Homo sapiens: one gene and its partners. The protein of the gene in region 5 interacts with the protein of the main gene of each other region in a biochemical or structural test. Each region holds a gene or a part of one and is shown on either strand. Other genes may lie near its edges.

What was found.
Region 1: the proteins of DYRK2 (region 5) and UBR5 form a complex in vitro, tested with the Homo sapiens proteins (one study listed by BioGRID).
Region 2: of the proteins of DYRK2 (region 5) and TERT, one has a biochemical effect on the other in vitro, tested with the Homo sapiens proteins (one study listed by BioGRID).
Region 3: of the proteins of DYRK2 (region 5) and MAPT, one has a biochemical effect on the other in vitro, tested with the Homo sapiens proteins (one study listed by BioGRID).
Region 4: the proteins of DYRK2 (region 5) and SIAH2 form a complex in vitro, tested with the Homo sapiens proteins (one study listed by BioGRID).

What each region holds. Positions count from the first base shown.
Region 1 is NC_000008.11:102,290,540-102,296,406, forward strand, and holds part of UBR5 (E3 ubiquitin-protein ligase UBR5), read right to left. Parts: intron 5,244-5,867; coding exon 5,097-5,243; intron 4,994-5,096; coding exon 4,875-4,993; intron 4,792-4,874; coding exon 4,665-4,791; intron 4,573-4,664; coding exon 4,443-4,572; intron 3,577-4,442; coding exon 3,416-3,576; intron 3,306-3,415; coding exon 3,066-3,305; intron 1-3,065. UniProt on the Homo sapiens protein: E3 ubiquitin-protein ligase involved in different protein quality control pathways in the cytoplasm and nucleus. Mainly acts as a ubiquitin chain elongator that extends pre-ubiquitinated substrates.
Region 2 is NC_000005.10:1,266,087-1,271,953, forward strand, and holds part of TERT (telomerase reverse transcriptase), read right to left. Parts: intron 5,119-5,867; coding exon 5,033-5,118; intron 2,548-5,032; coding exon 2,434-2,547; intron 450-2,433; coding exon 378-449; intron 1-377. UniProt on the Homo sapiens protein: Telomerase is a ribonucleoprotein enzyme essential for the replication of chromosome termini in most eukaryotes. Active in progenitor and cancer cells. Inactive, or very low activity, in normal somatic cells.
Region 3 is NC_000017.11:45,988,520-45,994,386, reverse strand, and holds part of MAPT (microtubule-associated protein tau), read right to left. Parts: intron 4,510-5,867; coding exon 4,312-4,509; intron 2,928-4,311; coding exon 2,801-2,927; intron 464-2,800; coding exon of another isoform or gene 410-463; intron 1-409. UniProt on the Homo sapiens protein: Promotes microtubule assembly and stability, and might be involved in the establishment and maintenance of neuronal polarity.
Region 4 is NC_000003.12:150,750,964-150,756,830, forward strand, and holds part of SIAH2 (E3 ubiquitin-protein ligase SIAH2), read right to left. Parts: intron 1-5,867. UniProt on the Homo sapiens protein: E3 ubiquitin-protein ligase that mediates ubiquitination and subsequent proteasomal degradation of target proteins.
Region 5 is NC_000012.12:67,650,838-67,656,704, reverse strand, and holds part of DYRK2 (dual specificity tyrosine-phosphorylation-regulated kinase 2), read right to left. Parts: intron 1-5,867. UniProt on the Homo sapiens protein: Serine/threonine-protein kinase involved in the regulation of the mitotic cell cycle, cell proliferation, apoptosis, organization of the cytoskeleton and neurite outgrowth. Functions in part via its role in ubiquitin-dependent proteasomal protein degradation.

The DNA of each region.
Region 1 (5,867 bases), on a different chromosome or scaffold from region 5:
GAAGCCACAACTAATGAGTATTTCTTTTTTAAAACAAACATCCTAGAACAAACATCCACAAGAACTATAGGCCCCTCAAAGTGGTTACTTTAAGAAGTTATGCAGTTAGTATGTATAATACTGCCAAAACAGACTAGGTATAGTGGCTAATGCCTGTAATCCCAATGTTTTGGGAGGCTGAGGTGGGAGGATTGCTTGAGGACAGGAATTTAAGACCGACCTGGGCAACACAGCGAGACCCAAACGCTACAAAAAATTTAAAAAGAGTAATTTAAAAATACCAATACATAAAACGTATTACAGTTGAACATCCCTTACCTGAAATGCTTGGGACCAGAAGTGTTTTGATCTTGGGTTTTTTTTTTTTTTTTTAAATTTTGGAGTATCTGCATTATATATATTTATCAGTTGAGCATCCTCAATCCCAAAATCCAAAATGCTCCAATGAGCATTTCCTCTGAGCATCATGTTGGTGCTCAGAAAGTTTCCGGTTTTGCAGCATTTCAGATTTCTCATTTTCAGATTAGGAATACTCAACCTGTGTAACTCCCCAGTTAGTGTGACTTCAACTTTTTTCCCAACAGACTTGCTGGCACAATGAAGCACAACAGTCCTGAAGCCTAGTCTAAAAAGCCCCGTTAATACACTACTAAGTTTTGGGGACTTCTAGTTCCAGCAATTTGGCAGACTGTGCAGAGAAACCACTCTTGTTAAGGAACACATATATATGCTAGATATTAAAAAAAAAAAAAAAAAAAAGGACAGCTGTGCAGGTGATAAAGAGAAACGACTGTACTGTATAAAGCTTGGAGAGACAAGTGCCACCATTTATCCCAAAGGGACCCACTGATGTCTCTTGGGCTAGAAGGGCTTCAAGGAACCACAGATTTCACATGAGAGTCTGGAGGCTAAGCAAAGAATAGAAAGTCATCACAGGAATCTCCTCTTCTGTCCCCCTCACATATATAAAGCTAAACATAAATCTTAAAAGGGCAACACCATGAAGGAGTGAAACAGAAAAATCATACCTCGAGAGATTTACCTATCTCAGCCATGAATAGATGCAGAATGGAAAAAGGTCTCTTTTGAGAACTTCTAACTACAAGTCTGCATTTTGGAGAGTTTTGGACTGCACTCTACACTATAAAGCCTGGTTCAGTGTTGGTTAACTGTGTGGTGGCTCAACACTATGAGCAAGCACCAAGTAGTCTTCCTCTCTACTCTGCCATCTACTATTCAGGAGAATACAAAAAAAAAAGGAAGTATCTGTCAAGGTAAGTCCAGCGTCTAAACTTTAATTAGCTGTGTTACACTGGAGAAGTTGCCTAACTTTTCTGAGCCGTAGTTTCCCCATTTGACAAACTAGAATGATAGTGGTTATCTATGACATATTGGGAAAATTAAAACAGGTAATCTGTCTACAATACTTAGGAAAGTTCCTAGTACATACTAAAATTTCAGTAACTGTTAGTTACTGTTATATGAGAGACATGGAAATAAAGTAGAAACAGATTATTTATTAAGAACATAACAAGAACATTTTCAAGAGGTGGAAAGAAGCAACAGAAAAAGCTACTCTTAAGACTTCACACTCAATGGGGTGATATACACCTTCTATAATCCAAGACAAGTGAAATCCCAGAGAATGGTCAAGGTCTGTGTTTTTCAACTTAAGACATCCTTGGAACACTAGTCAAAATACACCCTTTATGGGTAAGAATGTACTGTACTATAATAAAGAACTTTTAACAGTTGAAGAAAACATTAGCACTATTTCTTGATTATCACATGAGATCTCCTTCTGGGAAGATTTAGGAAGTTGTCTCAAGAAACAAGCAAAGGGAATGGAATAAAGAGAGTTTAAGAGTATGTAATACTTTAATAATGAGACTAAGAACAAGATGACACAAAATCTTGAAACTTAGTAGGAACAGTTTCAAGGGCAGTGTTTAGAGATGAGACGATCCCAAAATCTGTTCAACAGCCATCAATTTTTTATGTTCCAGAACAAGATCAAGGGAAGTATACTAAGAATTCACAAAGTAATACCACTTAAGTAACTAATGAGTTCCTCACAGGGTATCAAGATCAGGAAAATCATACAGAGTCCAAGCAGATCTCACAAGCAGAATTATTTAATCATGGGATAGATTTGACAAGTCTGAAGATACACAGCTTGATTTGTAACAGTTTTCAACAAGTCCTGGATGTATATCAGTATCAAGGATACTATGGGAGAGCTCTGTCAGACAAAACTGGATTTAGATTAAAGGGACACCTGACATTAAAGGAAAAATTGGGACACATATACTGGCATATAGGAGAATAGTGAGAGCAGATACTCAACACCAACCCAGATCAAATCCAAGCGTAACAACTTGGGAACTATCCCAAACACTAAAGCAGGCCATCCTTATTAACAGAGATGTTTTCCAGAAAAGGAGGAAAAGGGTCTTTAGATCCTAAAGGTCCTTATTAAAACATCATCACACATGCACATGGTTATAAAATCAGACTTGAAAAAACAAAATACACTAAATATTTGCCAAAGATCTACAGCATTATTACTGAAAAGTCTGACCCCTAAACCAGCAGAATTGGCATCACCTGAGAACTTGAAAGGCATACGAAGTTGGAGGCCCCACCTCAAGACCTCTAGAGTGGGCATCTATATTTTAATAAGAGCCCCAAGTCATTTTCATACATATTAAAGTTTGAGAAGCAGTGTGCTAAAGGACATCGGAAAGTTTTAAGTTGCTCAACATCCTGATTCAACAAGCTTACAGTGTAATTAGGGAAACTATCAAACAAATAGAAAAGATAAATGAAACTTAAGAACAAATAATCTTATAATTAGAAACATTTATAATGGAGTTATTTTAGCCCTGTCCTTGATAATACAGTTGTTGTAGAAAAATATTTAAAATTCCGGCTTTCTGGTTGTTATTTATGTTACACAAATGATCATGTACACCACCTGAGTGCTTATGCAAAGGTTTTAGGAAGTCAAACACGACATTTCCAGAGAAGGATTAATCAGAATCTGTTACCTGGTAGCAATTTACCTGCTAGACTGATCAGATGATGGTCGTGGTGGTAGTGGTTCCACTGAAAATAATTCTTCACTGCCCTGCATGGCATCTATGCTAGTACTAGCCAGGGTAAATGGTGCAGTTGGACGAGCAATCCCCATTCTGACAGGAACAATCAGTGACTCTGCTACGTTGCACAATTCTTCCACAGCGTAAGGTAGCAATGCTTGGAATACACGCTTGCATTTTCCAATTGGCTGTGGAATAAAGTTGCTAGAACAAAAAGAGAAATATCAGCAATCTATCTTTTCATATACATAAATCACTATCACAAAAACAGAGTGAAAATGGTATCTAAACCAAAATCAAAAAGGATGCCTTACTTTTTCTTTTTGGATGAAGCCATTTCCACACTCAGAATAACAAAAACTCTTGCCACTGAACGTAGAAACCTCATTGTCACAGCAATAGCTTCTTCTCTACGTCCAGGTGTATATTTGTTTTGGAGTTCTTTCACTAGTGTACCTAGTAGAGTATCTAAAAGCTTTAAAAAATTATATTCACTCTATTAATGTTAAGATACTTCATAAGATGTTTAGACATTCATAAAGTTATAAGTTCTAACATTTTTTAAGTATTAACATTTTATAATAAAATCTCAAAACAAATTTAACCAAAACATTTACAAGGTCAGTTTATGAAATATACCTGCCAATGTGCTTGACATACAGTGAGTCCTAAATGTACGATTTCTTATTTTTTGTCCCACAGTCCTTGGTATATCAACTAATATTTAGAAGAACAATACCAAATATATGAAATCAGAAGAAGAAAACATAAACTCAGTCTGGGGCACTTTCCAAAACAGCAAAGCAGACTCAAATATTTATATGAATAAATTCATAATCCCATCTCCCTCATGGAACCATTATTACTTTCTAGTCTCTTTTCTGTGTGCAGCTTCTTGTATAAATGTTAGCTACAGAGAACACCCAATTTTCACAGTTTGGTTGTTTGGTTTTTTTTTTTACGTTATTTACAATACGATTTATTTTTAAATTGCTGCATCATATTCCAGTAAGTGGTCAGGCTATAATTTGATTCAAGATTACACTAGTATTAGGCTGATATTTTTCTGTTTTTAAATTTTACATTATTCTGTGACATGCCTTTATTTTTCTCACATCGTAAATTATTTATTTATGACAGGTTCTGAGGGCACTGATAGTTTTATGTTTTCCAGAGAAAGGAACGATGCAATGCCACCCCATCCCTATCTGAGTGTGTTATTACCATAACCTCATTCGCACTGGATCTTAAGGTTTAAATTCTTTTCTAGTTTCACAGCAAAGAAGAGTACTTGAAAAACATACTTTTCATGTACTTGTAATACACATTCAAAGAACTTACCAAAATATCTGCTGTACACTTAACTATAAGGCAATGAGTGAAACAGTCCAGCCGAATTGTGCCACTTTGCTGATTGAGGTATACTTGCTCTTCTGGCAAAAGATGGCCTATTCTACTGCTGGCACTAAGACTTGAGGAGAAACGAAAGACAGAATGAACTGTAAAAGGTCTACACTAACGTAGGAAATACATAAATCTAAAAAGGTTTTAATGAATACGTACGGGTCTTTATTCTCCTGCGACCCAAACATAATCATAGATTTCAAGGCATTCCAGTCCTGTAGAACACGCTCCAATGCAAGCTGGGCAAATCTTGGAGGCTCTAAATCATGATCTGGCATATCTGAATCTAAAATGAAAAAGAAATAGTGACCAAAACAAAAATAAAACATATTGCTTCCCACAAGTGTCATAAATGTCTAATTAACTCACCTTCAGGACTGGCTGTTTTTCGGTTACGATCTTCCCTGATTCGAGGTGGCCTGTATTGACAATGCTCCACCGTCTGCCTTGCGACTGTCTGTACTAAGAATAGTAAGAGGTGCTCTCCCCTGCAAAACAGAATGTTGTCGTGAGGAGGGAGGCTGAAAAGCTACTCAGCTGTGCTGCGCTCTTTTGATTTAACTTACTGTATGTTCTAAAAATCCCACTTGCCTGCTGTTTGGCAGAGTAACCAGATTAGTAGCAGTGAGCAGGCGATAAAGTAGATCAAGACGAGCAGATTTCTGTCCAGCAATAAGAGTTTTACATTTACATTTCTCCCAACAATCACAGTAGGCTGTTGGTGATGTCCGTTTGAGTCTATAGAGAATTTATACACAAGTACAAAAACTGAAATTTTTTAAACATACAAAGGTTTATGTTGACATTATGAAGGTATAACTCACTGAAACCAGAGAGAGCCCTTGTTAATTTCTAAATGCAAAGTATAACTGTCAAAGCTTATATAACAAGAAGGATTACTTGGTAGTAATGACATCTATAAAGCAACACAGAATTCCTATGAGAAGAGGTACTCTAAGGTACAATCACTTTTGGAATCTCTTCCCTAATTCCCAGTCCTGTTCAAGTGGTCCTCCTATATGACCTAATGAACCCTGTAACCCTATGGGCAGATATTTCTTGCTTCTGATAGGGATGTGAACACTGTCAGGACTATTCACCACCACCCTGGCATCTAGTACACTTGGAAAACAATCAATAACAACAGATTATCACACCTTTAGGTACTTAAAATAAGGAAAACAAAAAATACCAACCAGAATTCTTTTAATATCTATTAAAATTTTTCATTTGTCCTATACAATTACTTAATGGTACGGTAGATGGTTTTTACAGTCCAATTCTCTATTATAACATTTGTAGCCATTTATACTGAAGTCCCTATCCATAATCCTAAAACACCACAGATGTTAGTGCTAGGTA
Region 2 (5,867 bases), on a different chromosome or scaffold from region 5:
GGGAGGAGGCTGCCGCCTCGGCCCTGCAGGCCCTGTGCACAGCTCCTGGGGGTCTCACTGGGGCCCCAGGAGCCGCCACTCTTGACTTTCCAAAGAGCAGCAGGAGCCAGGTCACCGCCTGCACTCACCACGTGTGTAACCTGGGTGCGTCTCTGCAGGACCAGGGCCTGCACGGTACCCACTCCCTCCCGAAGGTGCCCCTGCGCCCCCAGGCCTGGGTGCACGGCCAAGCGCCTCTGCTCTTGCGGATCCAGCACCGGCAGAGAGAGAGGACTTGGCAGAGACAACGCTGCGGTGCCAGGGGCAGGACACGGGGGGCTCAACTGCAAAGCCCACAGGCTGTGGAGGTCCCCACAGACACACGGCACGGGCCTCACCTGAGGAAGGTTTTCGCGTGGGTGAGGTGAGGTGTCACCAACAAGAAATCATCCACCAAACGCAGGAGCAGCCTAAAATAAGGGAAAATACACAGCAAGGTTAACTTTACACTTTTTACGTAGTATCTGTCTACGAGGGACTGAATGTCAAACAATTTACACAGCCATAAATAAAGTAACATTCTCCAAAGCGGTTAAATGAAAAACTTAAATTTCTTTCCAACAGACGAGCTCTCTACAGTTAACTGCTACAGCAATTCCTCATTCATTATAAGTACTCAGTGTTTACCATCAGCTTGTGCAATTCTGTGCCAGCTGAAGACGAACGAAGGCCATCAGGCGCGGCCCCACTTCTCAGACTCTTAGGGAAAAATAACTGAAGACGGTAAGAAAGCTGGGGCTGGGAACCTCGCCCCCTCTGAGCCACGTGGTGCCCTTTACCAGCATGGCAGCTGTGGTCCTCAGCATGATCCGAGACCCAGATCCTATCCACAGGAAGCTGGGCATGGTGCACTGTGTGACCCTCAGGCCCAAGCCCAGCGCCCCATGACCATGGGCCAGAGGTATCCTGTCCCAGAGGGCTGACCAGTGTGCCGCCAGCTCGAGGACACTTTCCTCCAAATCCCAGAGCAAGTTGTGTGTACAAGAAATTTTTGTTTCTGTTACATAAACTTATTTCAATCTAGAACTTGAACCTTAATGAAGAAGAACCTTGATCCACTGTACATGCTATAATTGGAGCTAGAGTTTCAAAAGATGCACAGGAAAAACCCGGAGTCTTCGAGAGAAATGGCTGTGTGGCCTGCAGGCTTCCTGACGCATCCTTCACTAACTGTCTGCTTGTTCAGTGATACTATTTTCATAAAAAAATAACTGCTGTCCACATCCTCTCCAGCACCAGAACACTTTTACACTGTTGGTGGGAGTGTAAACTAGTTCAACCATTGTGGAAGACAGTGTGGTGATTCCTCAAGGATCTAGAACTAGAAATACCATTTGACCCAGCCATCCCATTACTGGGTATATACCCAAAGGATTATAAATCATGCTGCTATAAAGACACATGCACACGTATGTTTATTGCGGCACTATTCACAGTAGCAAAGACTTGCAACCAACCCAAATGTCCATCGATGATAGACTGGATTAAGAAAATGTGGCACATATACACCACGGAATACTATGCAGTCATAAAAAAGGATGAGTTCATGTCCTTTGTAGGGACATGGACGAAGCTGGAAACCATCACTCTGAGCAAACTATTGCAAGGAAAGAAAACCAAACACCACATGTTCTCACTCACAGGTGGGAACTGAACAATGAGAACACTTGGACACAGGGTGGGGAACATCACACACCAGGGCCTGTCATGGGATGGGGGGAGTGGGGAGGGATAGCATTAGGAGATATACCTAATGTAAATGATGAGTTAATGGGTGCAGCACACCAACATGGCACATGTATACATATGTAACTAACCTGCACGTCGTGCACATGTACCCTAGAACTTAAAGTATTAAAAAAAAAAAAGTAACTGCTGTCAATAAAAGCCAGCTGAGTTGAACCACATTAGGTTGGCACGATATTTAGGTGTGTGCGTCCTTGGGTGTAGACCCCATGCAAGTGGGATGGGCAATGGGCTGAAGAGGCGCCCAGTCCAGGCCACCTGTCGAGGGCCTGCTGGGAGATGTGGGGCCTCAGGCTGCACCAGCCCCATCTCCCCAAGGACCCTAACGGAACCTGGGTGACGTGACAGAAGCTGGTGTGCTTCCTCGGTGTTGAATTCACATGCTCATCATGCAGGGCAGCGGCCCTCCCGCCTGCTGAGCCCTGAGGCCTCTGGACATGGCCGCTGGACAGAGCCTGCGTGGAGCCCGCAGTCCTCAGGCTGTGCAACCCCTCCCGTGCGGCTTCATACCAAGAAGGGGCTGCAACCTTGTCTGGTTCCTCAAGACAGAGCAGTCATGGTCTCCAGAGCACCAGGAATATTAACACTGAATGCATCAAAAGCAAATCAACCCCCACCCAAGCCCCCCTGGGGAAGAGGAGGCCTCACCCGTCCCGCCGAATCCCCGCAAACAGCTTGTTCTCCATGTCGCCGTAGCACAGGCTGCAGAGCAGCGTGGAGAGGATGGAGCCCTGCGGGATCCCCTGGCACTGGACGTAGGACCTGGGGCGGGAAGACACAGGTGAGAGACGGGCAGGGCATGTGCTGGACATGCGTACACTCAAACCGAGCCACACACAGACACAGAACCTCATACACACAAACGACACGTCTACCATTCAGCCGGCAAACACCTCAGAAACATACCAGATGAGACCTCTGAACAAACAATCCCTGCTCCCCACTCTCACCATGCACTGGGGCGGCTGAAACAGATCCAGCCACAGGTGTGACCACATCCTTGCTCTGAATCATCAAGGTTTTCTTTCATTAAGGTTTCTTAAATCTTAGAGTTTATTCACAGAACCAGACACTTGACCCGGAATGAATGCTTAACCGGACTCCTTTTTTTTTTTTCAAGGAATTTGTCCACGGTGAAAGACTCATGACCCTACATGTAGCCGCTGCGCGCCAACGGATACAACCTTGCCCCTAGTTTCAGCATGACCAACGAGAAGCAGAAACTCTCCAAACAAGGATGCCAAGGGTGCGTTTTCAGACAAACAGTGAGAGCAGAATAGCCCCGTGGAACCTAAAGGTGCACACAGAAGGCATGGCTGCCACGCGACCCTCAGCCATCCCCAGAGCCCACAGGACGCCACTCCTGTTGCTAAGAGACGCTTGCAGCCTACTGCAAAAACAAGACCTGTTATTTTCGGGAAGCGCTATAGGTGGTCACCTTAAAAAGAGGCTTTCCGGCTGGGCGTGATGGCTCACACCTGTAATCCCAGCACTTTGGGAGGCCGAGGTGGGTGGATCACCTGAGGTCAGGAGTTCGAGACCAGCCTGGCCAACATGGCAAAAACCCCTCTCTACTAAAAATACAAAAATTAGCCAGGCGCAGGGGGTGGGTGCCTGTAATCTCAGCTGCTCGGGAGGCTGAGGCAGGAGAAATGCTGGAACCCGGGAGGCGGAGGTTGCAGTGAGTTGAGATCGCGCCACTGCACTCAAGCCCAGGCAGACAACAGTGACGTTCCGTCTCAAAAAAAAAAAAAGAAAGAAAAGAAAAGAGGCTTTCCTTGCTGGTGCAGATATCACAGTGATGGGCAAGAGGACTGCACTTTTTGCACAGAAGCACACGCACCAACTCTAGGAGTCCGGCCAGCCCAGCGAGTCAACGCAAGCAGATACGCCCCTGTGAGCACATGGGATGGGAAACTCTCTCTGTTCTTAGTTTTTGGGGCAACAGGTTTTGAAGACGTTTTTATTCAGAGGCCAAACTGGACCACGATGGGGACTAGAGCTTCGGGCCTGTCCGTGTCCTAGGGACAGGACAGACACAGTCACCTCCTGTCTGTCAGGGCATGAGGACGCAGTCATCACCTCACATTCCCCAAAGCCCTGCCACACGTGGACGGTACGTGACTTGATCCATCTTAATAAAATTCACGACCACGAAGGAGGCCCGTGGTGGCTTCTCTGGGGAGGTGACTTTGTCAGCGAATTCTGTGGGCCTGGGGGCCGCTTACACACATGTGCACACGTGTCCCTCGGCCAAAATTCACTCTGCTGCCATGTGCAATTTGTGTTTTTCCAGAACGTGTGTACTACTTAATATTTCTAATTATACTTTAATAAATATTATAATTGCTGATACCATTAGTGATTACTTATAATGCAATAATTAATAGTTATATTTTTAAATAAAAGCTTCCGAAGCTGTGCACAGTCCTTTATCCGCTGGAGACGATCCCAGAGAGAGGCCTCCACGTTCCACCTGACTGCGGATGACCTTGCTGATGACCTTGAGTGTGCACGAATTTCCTCCGTGCTACCACTCTCCCCAGGCACACACAGGGTCGCAGGCAGATGCCTGCCGGGAGGTGTGTGGTTTTACTTAAAATCCAGAGGACGTGATGTGGCACCAGGCACTGTGGCTCTACCACCGTGAGTGTGGCTCACCCAGTGGCTGTGTGACGGCAGCTCTCCCAGGCCGCCTGCCCCATGGCCACCACAGGCCCCCCGAGAGGAGCAAACTACACGGTCAACCCCGCACTTTCCAGATGGGAAATCTAGTCACAGAGAGAAGAGCCCGCGCCCTCGCGGGGGTCACACGACAGGGACAGGAATGAGAATCGGATAAAATCCTTTTGTATCGGGAGAGAGAGATACAAGCGTGTGAGAGCCGGGTGTCCAGCGTCAGTAGTAACTTGGAGCTGACAAGCTGCAGGCTCAAACGCTCGGCGCACACCTGACCCAGACACACCCCCCGCCCCTCGTCCTCCACGCAGGAGCAACTCCACACCCCGCTTGCCATTTCCAGGCCTCGTGTGGCACCTGCTCCGCTCCGGCTGCCGCAAGCCGAGCCATGTTTCCGGGGCCTCGGGAGCCTGCAGCCCAGGAGCCGGAGGGGGCGGGGGCCAGAAAAGGAGACTCTGGTGGCCCCGGGCAGAAGGGCAGTGGGGAAGGGGCAGGAGAGAGGTGAGCAGAAGCCCTGCCAGCCCGCCCAGCCACCCGCAGGGCAATGGCACCTGGCCACCTGACTCACTTGCCCCTGATGCGCACGGCGTGGTGGCACATGAAGCGTAGGAAGACGTCGAAGAGGCCACTGCTGGCCTCATTCAGGGAGGAGCTCTGCGAAAGCAGACGGGAGACACATGGGAGTGAGCCGGTGGGTGCTGAGACAGGCAGGACCACGTGGCCAAGACCCTCCGTCCCTTTTGGGGTCAGTGTTTGTGATGAAGTGCGGGGCTGGGCTGGAATGCAGGGCCATCGTGGGCTGGCCGGGCCGAGTCTCTGCAGACACACATGGGCTTAGGCAGAGTGTGTGACACAGAATGTCTCCTCTGGGCCACCTGTGGGTCCAGCTGGGCTCACACCCACACAGCCCACCGTGGCCCGGATGGCATATGTGATCCAGGAGTTGCTGCCCAGCTGCCGGGCACAGGGTCTGGGTCCCAGCAGCCCAGGCCACCTCCACCCCCACCCTGGGAGCCAAGGAAATTCGCCCAGAGGTCTCTGAGCCTCATGCGGTGGACACGACTGTCCCCTAGAGCCGAGCAAGTGCTAACAGGCATCTGCAAAGAGCCACAGGGCCACGTGGACAGACCACATCTGCAAAGGGCCACAGGGCCACGTGGACAGACCCAGCACTGAGAGGCCCGCTCAGCGGGGCGTGGCTCAAACACGGCCCGTCCTCCTAAGAAGGGGGACACGTTTCCTTTGGCCTCAGACCCAGCACTGAGGGGCCAGCTGGGCAGGACACGGCTCAAACATGGCCTGCCCTCCTAAAGGAGGGGGACACCTTTCCTTTGGCCTCAAGATCAAAACTGGCAGAGAAGACATTTAGCAAATCATGAACAAAGGCACTGCGGAACTGGAGA
Region 3 (5,867 bases), on a different chromosome or scaffold from region 5:
CTGCCTCCCTGACTTCAGAGACCCAGGGTGACCAGTGGGCTTGGTGGTGGTGGCTCCAAATACTTTTCATGCCTCTTATTTACAGAGTGGTCGTGGGCAAGTCACCTGACCTCCTTAAGCCTATGTCTTCATCTGAAACATAGGGAGACAGCCAGGCATGGTGGCTCATGCCTGTAATGCCATTGTCCCTGAAGTCAAGGAGAGCACACAGGATTAGAAAGCCCATCAGACAAACACAGCTGCGCAAACTGCACAGGGAAGAGAATTCGGACTGCTCCATCTTCAGGCTGCGAACCCTGTGTGAACCCTGCATTGCAGAAAAGGGTCCTCCCGGCTCTAGAAACACAAGCCAGTGAATGGCCACACACGCAAAGGGAGGCTGCTCCCAGCGAAGTAGGCTCCCGAGTACCTCTCTCAGATCTGGGCCCTGCAGGGGGTGGTCTTCTCTGGACTTGCTTAGTCGCTTAAAGAGAAAAATCCACGAAAGCCTTATTATCATCAGGCTTAAACAGGGCCTTAATGAGTCCTTCACGTGGCAGGCACCCACAGCTGGCCCAGCAGGGGCCCCATTCTGAAACAAGGTCGAGGGGCCCAAGGGGGAGGGTCTCTCCACCTGCAGGCAGCCACCGAAGAGCAGGTAAGACCCAAAGGGAAATGCATCACGTTGTTTCAGGTTGTTACAAAGTGTGAGTCCCCTGTAATCCCAGCACTTTGGGAGGCCGAGGTGGGCGGATCACTTGAGGTCAGGAGTTCGAGACTAGGCTGGCCAAAATGGTGAAACCCTGTCTTTACTAAAAATACAAAAATTAGCAGGGCGTGGTGGCCTGTGCCTGTAGTCCCAGCTACTCAGGAGGCTGAGGCAGGAAAACTGCTTGAATTTGGGAAGCAGAGGTTGCAGTATGCCAAGATTGTGCCACTGCACTTCAGCCTGGGTGACACAGTGAGACTCCGTCTCAAAAAAACAACAACAAAAAACAGAGTGTGAGTCAACTGGCCCGATGTTAAGTGAAAAAAAAACAGCAGGATCCAAACGCTACTTAAAATCCTGTCAAAATTCTGGGAATTATCCCTGGATCACATGTATATGAGAAAAACACCAGGCCAGAAAACACGAAGCGAAAAGACAAAAACAATGGGCCTTAGTGAATGGCCATCCTTGGGGGTGCCACTGCACGGCATGTGTGCGAGAAATGCCACCGCAAAGACACGCAGCAGGTGGTGGGCAGGCTCTGGGCAGCTCCCTCAGGCCAGGGAGAAGCAGAGTCACCAAGATCCAAGATCCAGGCCAGGCTTTGGTCACAGCCCGCAGCAAGTGCCATAGGCTGCCCGTGCCACCAAGGAGCAAGTGCAGGTCAGACACCCCTACATGGTGCAGAGTCTAAACCCAGGGGCCTGGAATACTTCACTGGGGCAATGGAAGAGAGAAGTGCTCGGGCAGGCAGGCAGGCTGTCCCTAATCCCCAAAGAGGACGACTGTTTTTTTTTTTTTTTTTTTGAGAAGGAATCTCACTTTTGTCATCCAGGCTGGAGTGCAATGGTGCGATCTCAGCTCACTGCAACCTCTGCCTCCTGGGTTCAAGTGATTCTCCTTCCTCACCCTCCTGAGAAGCTGGGATTACAGGCGCCCGCCACCACGCCCAGCTAATTATTTTGTATTTTTATTAGAGACGGGGTTTTGCCATGTTGGCCAAGCTGGTCTCGAACTCCTGACCTCAGGTGATCCGCCCACCTTGGCCTCCCAAAGTGCTGGGATTACAGGCATGAGCCACCACGCCCAGCCGCGACTGTTCTTAATAGCACTCCTGGCTGCAAAATAACTCAATGGATGCCTTACTGGGTACTCAAAATTGACTGGGTTTTACTCACAGGAGCCCAGGGCAACGGGCCCAGCCTGTGACTGCTCAGCTAAGACCCTCAGGTTTTGCAGCAGACTCCTAACGTCCCTAGCAAGTTAAGCTGCCCAGGGGTTGAGCCCTGAGTGACGTCACCCATTGTGACTTATCCAGGCTGCTGCTCTGTCTCCAGAGACATTTGTCTCCAGAGTCTCATTTGGGGACTGAAAACATGCCATGCTGGGGCTGCCTCTATGGAACCCTGGACTTGGGGCCAGAGAGGCTCCGAGAGCTGCCACTTAGTAGTCATGTGACTGCATTTTCCTCGGGTTTAAAATGAGCTGGTTAGACTCAGTCAAGCAAACTCTCAGAGGCTCGATTTCTTTCTTTTTTTTCCTTTTTCTGTATTTTTTTTTATCATGCTGCAGAATCAGCCTCAATTTCTTCATTGATAAAAAGTGAGGATTCAGGCTGGGAGTGGTGGCTCATGCCTGTAATCCCAGCACTTTGGGAGGCCGAGGCAGGTGGATCACCTGAGGTCAGGCGTTCGAGACCAGCCTGGCCAACATGGTGAAACCCTGTCTCTACTAAAAATACAAAAAATTAGCCGGGCATAGTGGCAGGTGCCTGTAATCCCAGCTACTAGGGAGGCTGAGGTAGGAGAATCGCTTGAACCTGGGAGGTGGAGGATGCAGTGAGCTGAGATCACACCACTGCACTCCGGCCTGGATAACAAAAGCGAAACTCTGTCTCAAAAGAAAAAAAAAAAAAAAGGTAGGGATTCAACATTTGCCTCAGAAATCAAAAGGACTGAGAAGGCAATGAAGACTCCAGTGCTTAGTAAACTGCAAGCTGCTGACCAGCTGCCAGGGGTTATTCATTCTCAGTGGCCTAAGGCCTCCTAAAATGAAGGCTGTACCTCTGAGAGCTTCAGCTTCCTCTAAGATTCAAGAGAACGTTCTTCTTACCAGAGCTGGGTGGTGTCTTTGGAGCGGGCGGGGTTTTTGCTGGAATCCTGGTGGCGTTGGCCTGGCCCTTCTGGCCTGGAGGGGCTGCTCCCCGCGGTGTGGCGATCTTCGTTTTACCATCAGCCCCCTGTAAATGAAACATGATAGAGGGGTTTTTCACCATTGGGAAAAGTTACTGCCACCAAGAGTCAACACCAGCCCCACTCCGCCACCTTGACTCAAAACGTGGCTAAGACTGGGGTGACCCTTTGCCTCCTAGATGCCACTAGTGTCTGCTACAACCACAAGGGCTTGCTGGGCACACAAACCCACATCCCCACCCAAACTCCAAGTTCCCTGAGGACATTTCCTCCCAGAGGAACTGTGTGCATTAGTTATCAGCATGAGTTGTGCCAAGGCCAGCAGAGCTCACAGCAATGATCAGGTCACTCTCCACTCCATGTCAATCATCGGCAGGACATTAGTGCACTACACATATGCAGACATCCATTTTCTGACTCTAATTATGGATTTATTTGGCTGATGGTGGTTGGCTCCACCAGAGGCCCCTGGGGGCAGTGTTGAACCTGACCAAGGATGCTAAAGAGAGCTAGGTCGTGTTCTTTCATTCTCTCGCAAACAACCCTAAGGCCTCAAGAACTCCTTGGGTGTGCTCAGACCAGGCGAGCACCCGAGGAGGCGAGCACCAGCATCACTGACAAAGCTGGCAGAGTCGGGCATGGCACAGTCTAGGGACTAGGGCAGTCCCTGGGTTCCGTTACCCAGCAGATGACCCTTAGACATAACACAAACTCAAAAAAGAAACTGACATTAACCAAGGACCACAAGCTAGTTGAGGGGGCAGTGAGCTCACGGGGCAGTGTTGCTATGGCGTGATGCTGTCCTACCCAGATCAGGGCAATCTGGAAGCATTTCTCTTGCCAAAATCAGGAATGGGCAAAGGAACCCAATGAGAGTAGCAATTTTGGGTTTGTTTTTTAAACAATTTTTGCGACAGGGTCTTGCTCTGTCGCCCAAGCTGGAGCTAACTACAACCTCTGCCTCTGGGGTTCAAGCAATCCTTGTGCCTCAGCCTCCCGAGTAGCTGCGATTACCACCACGCATACCACCACGCCCGGCTAATTTTTGTATTTTTAGTAGAGACAGGGTTTTGCCATGTTAGCCAGGCTGGTCTCGAACTCCTGATCTCAGGTGATCCACCCTCCTCGGCCTCCTAAAGAGCTGGGATTACAGGTGTGAGCCACCGTGCCCAGCCTTAGAGTAGCGATTTCGAAACCAAGGTCCCACCAGGTGTCTTAGGAGCTGCTGCTATGAGAGCCTGTGGGGTGCTGAGAGGGATGGCCCCCAGCTCTCTTTTCCCCTTTGCCCAGAATTCTAACTATTTTACACGGTGCTTCTATGCCAGAACTCATTTGAAGAAAGGTCTTTGAGGCTAAAAAACAAATAAACAAACCCCACATTTGCAAACCACAGCAGAGCAGCCTGGTTCTTTTCAAAGGTGGTTTCCTTACCTTGAGTTTCATCTCCTTTGCTCCAGAACTGCCAGTTCGGGAAGTGACAGAAGAGACGTATTTAGGAGAGGAAGGTGGCTCTGGGCACACAGCAGGGCTGGAGGGTTGGATCAGAGGGTCTGAGCTACCAGGAGTGGGGTGTTTGGGGCTAAGGCAAGGCCTATTTTTCAAGGTTTTAGCAGAGGAACGTGTGGATGTCTTAAACATAAACATAAATAAAATCAAAATAAAAGTCAGCACATGGAGGAGGGAAACAAACTGAAAAAAGGACAGTAACTAAAAATAAATAAGGCAGGTAATGGTTGAAAGCAGTGATCTCCAGGCTGTTTGAATCAGGTACCCTTAATATCCCTTCTGATCAGTAAGAACAGGAAAGTGACCGTCCTCCCCAATCACAGTTCTTTTTCTTTTTCTTTTTCTTTTTTGAGACGGAGTCTCGCTCTGTCGCCCAGGCTGGACTGCAGTGGTGCAATCTCGGCTCACTGCAAGCTCTGCCTCCTGGGTTCACGCCATTCTCCTGCCTCAGCCTCCCGAGTAGCTGGGACTACAGGCGCCCACCACCACGCCCGGCTCGTTTTTTTGTATTTTTAGTAGAGATGGGGTTTCACTGTGTTAGCCAGGATGGTCTCGATCTCCTGACCTCGTGATCCACCCGTCTCGGCCTCCCAAAGTGCTGGGATTACAGGCGTGAGCCACCGCGCCTGGCCCTGACAAAGCTTTTAGAAGAGGACATGAAAAAGGAATGGAAGTTCTAGTACGTTCTTTCTCCAGCCTGTTGGATGTTACTGTGCCCCTGAATTTGGAGACGACTGGTTTAAAGGTGCTTCACATGAGTAAGTTGATGGAGATCATCAAGGTACATGAATCTTAGGATGTTACTCAAGAAAATGTCCCCAAGTGTGTCACGGGGTCTGAAGGGCCTTACTTTCTACTCAATTCCAGGCAAGGTGCTTTTTTACCTGCCCATTAACCCATGGCCTCTTCCACCACACTGACAGACTCATATGGCTACAATCAGGAGTGTGCCCCCCCCAAGTTGGAAAGATTCTACCTGACTTAGGTTACACCCACCCCCACCACACATGTGCTTTCTGATTAAAGTCTCAAATCAAACTAATATTAACACTATCTGGTGAATCCTAATCTGGCCAATGTTAACTCTTTTGTTTGTTTGTTTGTTTGTTTGTTTTAGAGACAGGGTCTCCCTCTGTTGCCCTGGCTGGAGTGCAGTGGTGCCATCACGGCTCACTGCAGCCTCCACCCTTTGGGTTCAAGTGATCCTCCCACCTCTGCCTGGCCAATTAAATTTTTTTTTTGAGATGGGGTCTTGCTATGTTGCCCAGGCTGGTCTAGAACTCTTGGGCTGGGGACATCCTCCCACCTTAGCCTCCCAAAGTGCTGGGATTACAGGCATGAGCCACTGTGCCAAGCCTCCAATGTTATCTCTTTTTCTTTTTTTTTCAGTTTGTCAGTGTAAACAACACTGCTTACTTTTGAACCCATTCCACAAGAGGAAGCAGCCAGGGACGGGTGTCTGCACGCCTGTCCCTATGGAG
Region 4 (5,867 bases), on a different chromosome or scaffold from region 5:
ACTCTTCAAGTTAATCATGTTAAGGCTTGGGAAACAGGAGAAAGTGAAATCTGTTCTTGTGACTTATTTATAATATTCAACCTGCATCTGTCTAGCATCCTTCCTCTAAGAACCTTAGCGTATTTTCCCTTAACTTGAATGGTAAATTCCTGAACTCTGCTGTGAGGCAGTGTGAAGAGATAATCAGGCCTGACACGGTGGCTCATGCCTGTAATCCTAGCACTTTGGCAGGCTGAGGCAGGCGGATTCCCTGAGCTCAGGAGTTCGAGACCAGCCTGGGCAACATGGTGAAACCCCATCTCTACTACAATACAAAAGAAATTAGCCGGGCGTGGCAGCATGTGCCTGTAGTCAGGAGGCTGAGGCAGGAGAATTGCTTGAACCCGGGAGGTGGAGGTTACAGTGAGCCGAGATTACGCCACTGAACTCCAGCCTGGGTGACAGAGAGAGACTCTGTCTCTTAAGAAAAAAAAAAGAGAGAGATATCATCAACCAATAGTGCAGTAACAGTTTTACAGACAGTGATAGGAGAAGACACTATTACTCAGCACTAGAACTGTCAAGTCAAACAGTGTCACCAAACAGTGGTGAGAGTAAGGAAACACTTACTGTTCACTTTACTAAATTTCTTCTGGGGAAGACAATTCTAATTAAAATCTTGGGCCCAAAAATCTGTCCTTTTTGCCTAAGAGAAAGTCAACAAACCACCTTTTAGCTTTCTTACTAAGAGGTGTCTTGGGAAGACTTTGGCATAAATTTCTTTTCTTTCTTTTTAAAAAGAGACAGGGTCCTGCTGTGTTGCCCAGGCTGATCTCAAACTCCTAGCCTCACGTGATCCTCCCATGTCAGCCTCTCGAAGTGTTGGGATTATAGGCATGAGCCACCACAACTGGCCTGGCATAATTATTACTGCAGAAATCTGAGAACACCCTGCTATCAAGGGAGGGTGTGTTTAGCCTTACAGAGACTCCCAGGGCTGGCAGGGGTTTATTTTTAATCTTAGAAACTTTAAACAAAGGTTGACTTTTGACCATGTATGTTTCTCATCTGTCCATAGCCAGAGTTAGCAGGTAACCACACATTGTCATGGAGAACCAGTTTTGTGAGGTCCTTTCAAAGTGCATGTTCAAGCAAACAAAACACTTAAAAGCTGAGTTAAAGGCTCTATGCCATGTGACCAGTACCACACCCACCCTTTCAGTATGCCCTCACTCTTCCATGCCAGGTTCCCACCTGCACAACCACATAACTGCCCTGACAGTTCTTCAAACAGCTCTATTCCCCTCAGCAGTCTTTATTTCTCAACGAAAGCAACTGAATTCACCAAAAGACTTAAGTGGTAGGGTTGTAAAATTATTAAATAGGCCAGGTGCAGTGGCTCACGCCTGTAATCCCAGCATTTTGGGAGGCCGAGGCAGGCGGATCACCTGAGGTCAGGAGTTCGAGAACAGTCTGGCCAACATGGCGAAGTCATGTCTTTACTGAAAATACAAAAATTATCCGGGCGTGATGGCATGAGCCTGAAATGCCAGCTAATCGGGAGGCTGAGGCATGAGAATCACTTGAACCCGGGCGGCAGAGGTTGCAGTGAGCCAAGATCGCACCACTGCACTCCAGCCTGGGCGACAGAGCGAGACTCCATCTCAGTATTAAAAAAAAAAAATTATCAAATAAAAATACAAGATGTCTCTCAGGCAATGTTTGGAATATACTTATTATTCTTCTCCGGCCCCGCAAGTTATTTGTTGTTTATCTGAAATTCAAATTTAACTGGGCACTCTGTATTTATCTGGCAACCCTAATAAGAGGACCTGCTGGTACCACTGCCATCCCTGCAAAAGCCACTCCTTGGGTCTAGAATGGGAAGAGGGATCACTGTTCCTCAGAAGGGTAGAGTGGGCACAGAAAAAGCAAGAGGTTGTAGTGAAAAAGACACTGTATATGTAATTAGTCCAGACTGGAGTTTCTGCCCCCAAACTTAAAAACTGCACGAGCATGGGTGCCTAGCTCGGGCCATCTATAAGCAAGGCAAGCAACATCCTTCACAAGCAACTTTGCTGGCCTCCCACACAGCCTCCTTATGAGCTTCCATCCCTTCTTTCTTCACAGGCAAACCGCTGCGCACCTTCAACATGCAGCTGGTGCCACCATGGCAGCAAGGTCTTCGGACTCCTTTCGGCTCCTAGTACTTCAGACGGGCTCTGCCCTATTGGCACATCTGTCTCCACCAGTAGACTTAGGAGAGTTTCAGAAAGACGAGAGGGGTGAGCAGAGGCAAGAACTGGCTAGGCAGATGGGTTGTGGGAAGGAGAGGGCCTGGAACTGCAGGAGATTCCAAGGCAAGAGTGAGTATGATGTAAAGTTGGTGGGGTCAGCAGCGGCCAACTCTGGCCTGACACTGCACCAGGGAGAAAAAGCAGGCTGTGGCATTAAGAAAACCAAAAGGTAACACCCAATGTCGGTGCTGCTGGGAAGAAATGGACATTCAACTGTAAACCATTCTAAGGGAGAAAACAATTTGGTTCTACTATCAAAAAGCTTCAATTTCTCAGGCCGGGTGTGGCGGCTCATGCCTGTAATCCTGCCACTTCAGGAAGCTGAAGCCGAATCACTTGAGCTCAGGTGTTCAAGACCAGCCTGGGCAACATGGTGAAACCCTGTTCCTACAAAAAATACAAACATTAGCCAAGCCTGATGGTGTGTGCCTGTAATCCCAGCCACTCAAGAGGCTAAGGTGGGAGGATCCCCTGAGCCCAGGAGGTTGAGGCTGCAGTGAGCTGTGATTATGCCACTGCACTCCAGCTTGGATGACAGAACTAGACCCTGTCTCGAAACAAAAAACAAAAAAAAAACACTGAGATTTCTGCATATACCCTTGGGCTCTACCATCCAACTTCAAGGAATTTAACTTTAGGAAATAACTATATTTTTGTGTACAAAGATTTGGTTATAGCAGTGCTTTAAAAAAAAAATCTCAGTAAGAAAAGAGAATTTAAATGACCACAAATAGGAGCCTGATTAAATAACTCTGGTACTGTTATAGAACTGCAATATGTGGCCATTAAATATGATCCTAAAGAATATTTATCACTGTAGAAAAGCAGTCACGATGTGTTAGATAAAGAATGTGTTAGATAAAGAAGCAGATTATGAAACAGTGTAGACAATAGGATTCCTCACCTGTATTGTTCTATTCTCAAATTGCTACAAAGAAATACTTGAGACTGAGTAAGTTATAAAGAAAAGAGGTTTAATTGGCTCACGGTTCTGCAAGCTGTACAGGAAGCATAGTGGCTTCTGCTTCTAGGGAGGCCTCAGAAAGCTTCCAATCATGGTGGAAGGCAAAGGGGGAGTGAGGCATCTCACATGGCAAGAGCAGGAGCAAGGGTGGGAGAGGTGCTTCACACTTCTTAAATAACCAGATCTCATAAGACTCACTATCATGAGAACAGCACCAAGAGGATAGTGCTAAGCCATTCATGAGAAATCCACCCCCAAGATCCAACCACCTGCCCCAGGCCCCACCTCCAACATTGGGGATTACAATTGAACATGAGACTTGATGGGGACATAGACCCAAACCATATCACCATCTCACTTGTTTTGTTTTTGTTTTTGTTTTTAAAGAAAAACTCCACCGATGTAGAAATAAGTTTGCAAGGATGTATGCAAAATGGTATAGTGGTTATCTTTAGGTGAGGGAGATTATAGGAGATTTTAATTTTATACTATTTTCTATATGTTCTACATTTAAAAATAATCATAACTTTAGAAAACATAATATGTAAAAATACACAAAATATAATACATATAATTTAAAATGCTGCTTAATCTAACCAGTTTTCCCTCTCAAAAAATTTAAAGAAATGAAAAAAAATCCTCATCACTGAAAAACCAATACAAGGGCCAACTTACACAGCTCTATGAAAATGCTATATGATTAAGAGTAGGGAAGGGAAGCTCATTGGGAAAATCTATGGGAAAAAATAGGAATGATTCCTTTTTTTCAAGTTTATGCATGAACCTGACCTCAGACATCGGCCATTTAGTTTCTGTTAGCTTCTAACTGAGCACATTTATTTAGTGCCTGGGCTGTGTCAGGCACTTTGCATGAATTATTAGTGTGTTTGGTCCTCAAGGCAACCTTGAGGCTTGGAGAGGTCACCAGCCAGTCACAGTGGGGCTGGAGTTGGGATTTGGACCAGGCCAGATGAGGGGCTGCCCTCAAAACTGCCAGAGTTAGAGGGATCCTGGGGGTAAAAGGGACCCAAAGATACTATCTTTGCTGATTCAAAATTTTAAAGCAGTGCATAGGCCGGCGCATTAGCAAAAGAATATTTTTCTTTTTCTTTTCTTCCCTTTTTTTTTTTTTTTTTTTTTTTTTTGAGACAGGGTCTCACTCTGTCACCCAGGCTGGAGGGTATTGGCAAGATCTCAGCTCACTGCAGCCTGGACCTCCTGGGCTCAAGCGATCCTCCCACCTCAGCCCTCTGAGTAGCTGGGAGTATAGACACGAGCCACCATGCCCAGCTAATTTTTGTATTTATTTATTTATTTTTTTTATTTTTTGAGACGGAGTTTCACTCTTGTTGCCCAGGCTGGAGTGCAATGGTGCGATCTCAGCTCACCACAACCTCCGCCTCCTGGGTTCAAGTGATTCTCCTGCCTCTCAGCCTCCCAAGTAGCTGGGATTACAGGCATGCGCCACCACGCCTGGCTAATTTTTTATTTTTAGTAGAGACAGGGTTACTCCATGTTGGTCAGGCTGGTCTCGAACTCCCAATCTCAGGTGATCTGCCCGCCTCGGCCTCCCAAGTGTTGGGATTACAGGTGTGAGCCACTGTGCCTGGCACAAATTTTGTATTTTTAGTAGAGACGGGGTTTCACCATGGTGGTCAGGCTGGTCTTGAACTCCTGACCTCATGATCTGCCCTCCTCAGCCTCCCAAAATGCTGGGATTACAGGCATGAGCCACCACACCTGACCAGGAATATTTTTCATCCATCTGTATATCACCTGTGGGCAAAAACTGAGAACAGGAAAACCCTTTTATTCCATAGATGCTACACAGTCTAAAAATCATTACATAAAATCTTTACCAAACTGGAAATGAGGAAAACAACAGTTTTGCAATCTAGGGCAAAGCTGATGAAATTCTGTAGAGCATTTCAGTATCCTTCATCAGCCTTAAAAGGATACCCCGAATCTTAAAATAAAGATACATTTGATCAGGAAGACTTTCTTATTTTCCTTTTCAGGATGTCCAGCGTGGAACCACATTCAAATACCCTGTGTATGATCATGTCCTGAAAAACTCGCCAGCAATACACAGTGGCTCCAAATGCTGGCACTGGTACACAGTTTAGCAAATGTGTATCTGCTACGTGCCCCTTTCAAGGAGTGAGGACCTTATGGGTTTGAATAAGAACGGCCATGTCTCACAAATTTTGTCAGAAGCAAAATCTGATGCTTAAGACATTTTACAGTGAAGCCTCACTATATTCATGTATACAGTACTTTTTAATGGGGCTTCAAAAAACAGCTCTACCACAGAACGGGAGAGTCTATCCCAATCTTGGGCTGGTATTTTATAGGCCAGACCTGCTGTAACTTTTGGTAAGCCTCTGTTCTGGTTATACTAAGGCTCAACTTTCACTGATAACTATTTACTCTAGTTCCAGGTCATGGTGACCTGTGAAAAATCTTTGGCCAGTTATGTGTGGAATTACCATTAAGCTTAAGTACTGCCATATAGTATTCTAATGCTTCTGCTTTATACAAAAAGTAAACTACAACGAAAGGTGTATTATCAATTTTGTTCTTTAAAATCTTGAGCCCCGGAGTTAATGTATGTGGACTCTGGTCCT
Region 5 (5,867 bases):
ATCTAGTAGTTTATTAACATGAAGACAGGGACCATGTCTGTCTTGTTCACTACTCTTTCCCTAATACCTAGAGCTCTATCCTGAAAACACTTCATCACCAGTATTTCCCCTTTCCTTGAAAATCTGATGAAACCTAAGTGCACACATGATCCAGTGACAAAAACAAAAACCCTGTGTTTTTAGACTTGAAAGATTCCCATGTAGATGTGTACCATAGTATCTTATGGACCCCTGACCTATTTTTAAAAGTTTCCAGGCTTTACTAACTGTAATAACCATTTAAGGCATTCAGCCCAACAAACCAAGCAACGACCACACTGTTTGGCCTTCCTCCGGAGGGGTCAGTGGCTCAGCTCTCTGAAGATGTCCATTTCTACAAGCTGCTGGGATACTCAGATTTCCAAATAGGAATCCAAAGAAGCAACCTCTGTTTCAGGTATGCATGCCATCCCTGAACATTCCTGTCTAAATTCTATCAATGGTGTGAACCAAGGGACCCCAGCCCTCTACTGAGAATCTTCTTGGGATTTCCTTTAAGCATTATGGCTGCTGAGAGGTAAGGGGTAGGAGAGGACTGGCAGCCAGGATCCTCTCCCAGTTAGGAATTCCTGCCTTGGACAACCCCTAGTCTTAAAGCAGCCTGGCAGGTGATTTCTGTATGAAATCTTACACCACCTTGTCATCACAATCCACCTCATTCAGTCAACTGGTATTAACAGGAGGCTGGCTGCCAAAGTGACAGAGTCCCTGCCCTCCAGGAACTTACAATTAACTAGATGAAGTCCACTGCCATCAGTATTTTTTCTACTATCCCCTTTTAAATCCTACCTTTGGGGCTTTACATACTACTGAAAGAGCAGAAGGGCTCTGTATATGTAACACAGTAATTCAAAACATGATTTGGGAACACCTGGATTACAAAATGAAATTCCAACTCCTTCTTACTAGCAGACCAAGACGTTCACATTTTCTTTATTGGATACATAATATGCACAATGACTATGTGGAGTGTGAGCTTCCTCTCTGCCCACTTCTAACTAAAACAAAACAGAAGACAATACTTGGGGCCTGTCTGACTGTGACTTCATAGGCTCAGGGATATCATTTCTTAGACTTATAACTGAGCTTTTTTATCACACTCATAGATGATACTCCATGCTAGGTGACCTTATATTCAATAAGAGTAGCTAGAAAGGTTATTTTACCCTTGTTCTATGCCAAAAGCAGGGCAGTCCATAAAAATGAATCAGGCAAGTCTTGGGCATATATAAAAGAGGTACAGGCTTGTCCAATGCTTCTCTTCCCCAGCCTCGCTCTCTGCACCCTCTCCTGTCCACTGTGGTCTTTCAAACACCAGACAATAAAGGGGCCTGAATCAAAATATCTCTCTCCTATAGAATCATTTTCTTTAGAGTGGAGTGGTGATATTTCAGCAGAAAAATTCACATTACCTGTATACATGCTATAAAAAGCATAAAGCTCTTCATTAGGACAAAATTAACCTTGGGGCTTTAGAGATTTCTAAAAACACAGCAAAGTAAAACCAAGCCTCAGAAATTTACTTCAAGCAATTTTTGTGTTTCGCATAATTTAATACATGATCACAAATGTTTTAGTAACTAAAACTAACGAGACTGACAAGAAACGACCATCTTCTATATCTCCAACTGCCTTCTCTTGGTCTCCTTTGCAGCATCAACTACTACCTAACCTTAGGTGGATTCAAGAGTTCCCCAGGGTTCAAATCTCGATTCTCTTGGCTTCTTACTCCCATAACCCCCTGCAACTGATCCTGAACACAGCCAGGGCTTCAGCAACTGCCCATGGCCTGATGTTTGCGCATTTGTTCCCTGAGCTCAGACCTTCCAAGGTGCTATCTCCTGAGTGGAAGACACACATATCCAACTATCGATCAGCTCCCTCTCCCATAAGCAACTCAAACTTAACTCATGATTTTTCTAACAAACCAGTTTCCCACTTCCATAATCCTCCATTTTTGATAAAAAGAAGGCTTCCCCTCCATGTGTCACTCAGGCTATCCACCTGCGAATGAATCCTCAGCACTGTGTGCCTGGAAAATCTCAACACCTCCCTCACCTTCCCAAGTCACCAAGAAGATGCATCATTACTATCCCAGGCCCTTTCCATCAACACTGCCTCATCTCACTCTCCTGATGTCTTTCACTGGGACAACTGAGGCAGCATCGTAACATGCCCCCTTGCTTCTAAGTCTAGAATTCCTCAAATCTCTTCTCCATAGTGCTTCTAGAGTCTGATTTAAAAGTCTCAACCTGAGACCACTCTTGCTTTTGCCCAAGGCCTGTGGCTGTAACCTATTTCCATAGCTAATGCAAGAACTTACCAGTAAGAACACAAGGCTCTAAAATGTAGAGGCTAAATGATCGGAGTCCTTCCATTCTCATCAACTACTGTCACTCTTCTCTCCAAGAGAACAAAGCTAGATAGCCCAGGACCCAAAAAACACCACACACTTTTACACTCCTCTGCTTTTAGTGAGGTCAGGTTTCATAATGGTAGATTTTCAGTTAGACACACATTAAATGATCCAGCTCCACCATTTACTAAATGTGTGACCCAGGGCAACTTATTTCATCTCTGTTAACCTCAGTGCCCTTGTCTGCAAAAAGAAGGTAACAAAGTTACCTCATTAGGGCTTTTAGGGGGATTAAATAAGGTAATATGTGTAAAGTGCTTAGTAGTCAGTCAATGAGAGCATTATTATTGTCCTTTCCAGATATTTCTTGTAATCTCCTTTCTCATACCTAGGTGATTCACCCTTTTACTTATTTCTCTTTATTGCAATTGTTTTAACATCAGATGTACTCATCTGGCTGTGAGCAATTCCAGGGCTGGGTCCCCTCTTATGTTTCCAAGTCCTCATTAACATAAACCCAGGCATATAGTAAGCCCTCAATAAATATCTTTGGGATGGAAGAACACATGCCAATAGATCCTCCTTGTTAACTCTTGCCTCTCTTGGAGTTGTTCCTGAGAACTACATTGTGTACCTTCATAAGGAAACATGAAGTCAAGGCCCAGGGAATTAAGAAACGTCCCTGGTGACCTAAGTCACAAGACGTTAGGCTTGCAGTGGATCCGCACAGACTTGGAGGCCAAGGACCTCCAAGCATAAAGTACCTGTAGCAGACACATCAATCAAACCATGTATAAAACACTTGCAACAAACACATCAACCAAACACCTAAAAGCAACACATGCAATCTTAAAAGCTTTCCAGATGTTAGAGATTCATTTGAGAAGCTCTAGCAAAAGAAGACTTTGAATCTCAAACATTGCAGGACTCTAAAATCACAATCAAGCTCAAAAGCACAATTAACTGACTTATAAAAAATGGGGCAGAGAGCAGGGTGGGGGTGCTGAGGGACTAGAAATGCCAGAACATTTCCAGAATACGTATGTCAAGACTACATCATAAACTTAAGGATACTAAAAACCTCTCCCTCCAGCTCAGCCTCTTGAAGTCTGAGATCATGGCTTATTCCGATATGCCAATGTATAGCACAGTGTGTGTCACATTTAAAAATACATACTGAGGCCGGGCACAGGGGCTCAATCCTGTAATCCCAGCACTTTGGGAGGCTGAGGCAGGTGGATCATTTGAGGTCAGGAGTTCATAACCAACCTGGCCAACATGGTGAAACCCCATCTCTACTAAAAATACAAAAATTAGCCAGGCATGGTGGCGGGTGCCTGTAATCCCAGCTACTTGGGTGGCTAAGGCAAGAGAATCGCTTGAACCCCGGAGGCGGAGGTTGCAGTGAGCCGAGATGGAGCCACTGCACTCCAGCCTGGGCAACAGAGTGAGACTCCGTCTCAAAAAAACAAAACAAAACAAAACAAAAAATAAAAACATAATACAATTGTTAAAATAGCTACAATTTATGGGTTCGAATTGAGAGACCTGCAAAGGCTTCTTTGATCATCAAGTACTTTGGTATTAAATATTATATAAAAACAATAGTCTAACCAGTTTGGTAGTTTTCATTTCTTCCAATAAGAAAATGGCAAACAGCAGATATTCCACTGTGATAATAGTCTTGGGCGTTTAAAAACTTTTCTGAAGTCATCTTAGAAATGCTGTATAGTATTATGGTAATAGAATTGAGTCCAAAAAGACTGGAATTTTAGCTCCTCCTCAAACATTCTGACAGTCTGTGTGGCCCTGTCAGAAAGAAAAATGTCTACTTTTTCTTCTTCAAAATACTGCCATTTTTTAAAATGTGTATTTCAATTTGAATTATTTTATAAAGGTAAAACTGATAACTGGAGTGTTTTACATAGTAAAACAGTTACAAAAGTTATACATATTTTAATATTTTTGAATTTAAAAATACTTCTATTAATAACTACCAATTAACATTAATAGAAAAATAATAGGAAGTAAGACAGTGATTGGGCACACTTCTCTCTCTCACACAAACAGAAATAACTAAAGTGTAAAACAACTTATACATGGAGATATAAAACAAAAGGGCAATGGTCTAGATAAATTCCAAAGTTTATAATCTTTATAATCATATATTTAACCTGCCTACTATATCACCTGTAAGAGAAAATGTGGGCAAGCTCCTATGACAAGATCATTTTTATCTCCTTAATGCCCTCCCGCCCCCCATTCATTCTAGAAGTTCTTCCTAGGTGTAATTACTCTGGAAATAATAACTAAAAATTTATAAAAATCTGACAGACATATGGGAATATGGATCTACAAAGGTTCTTGCATTTATAATGAGGCTAGTACAATTTCCTAGAATTAGCAGTCTCCATCAGTATATTAAAACTAGATGCAGGAGGATGTAGGCTTTCACTCTGGCCTTGATATGAACTGGCTGGGGAATCTTGATGAAACCAGTTACCTTGTCTGAGTCTGTTTCCTCATCTATAAATTGAAAGAATAGAACCAGATAAACTCTGTGGTCCTTGTAACCTTTCCTGTACTATGAAATCTGCTATGTTATAGAAATAAAATCAAAACTAAACCACCATCGAAACCCAAATTCACACCTTCAAAGTCAAGCATCTAATAATTAACAGCATACCGAAGTTTACACACACGTTAAAAACAAGTAAATCTGGCATATGCCACAGCAAAATACAGGCCTCCATTATGAGGAGTACTGAGAAGCACATTCGCATCCTTCCTTTTCTGGTGCACCACAGGCTCTCCCTCCAGTGGAGACTTGTCGTTTCATCTACTTTCATTACATGTATTTCAATTGCAAAGAGGCTCTGATCAAGCAAAGCCCATCCTTACAAAATTGGAATCCACATGCAAACCAAATAGTTCTTTTTCCAGCTCACACCATGTCATGTGATTACATCAACACATAGCAAAAAACTGGGTATTATATTTTCCAAATTGTCAGATGATCCCAAACAAAAAAATCCAAACCCCTAAAATCAATGGCAGTCCCTTAAATATCACTGTGACAAGAACACTTAACAGTAATATACAGAATCATCCATCCTACTATACCATCCACAGTCCAACACAGGTTAGTTAACCTCTGTGCAATGAATTCCCAGCCCCTGGGACCAGATGTGTCAGGATAGAGAGACAGACAGAGGGAGGGGGAAGATAGTAACAGCAACAAAACATTTTCCTACGAAACTTGCACACATCTCTCCAAGTCTAACAGGTGCAACTACAGTCTAGACATCCCCTCACAGTTCTCTGACAAACAAGTTTCCCCATAACATATGTCCCCAGAGCTACTCCCCTGTAGACCGGAGATGGCCTTTTCTTCAAGAACTCAACTTTCACTTAGCAAATAAAACCAATCCCTAGCAAGCCTCCCTCACACAGAACCATCTTAGGCTGTTCC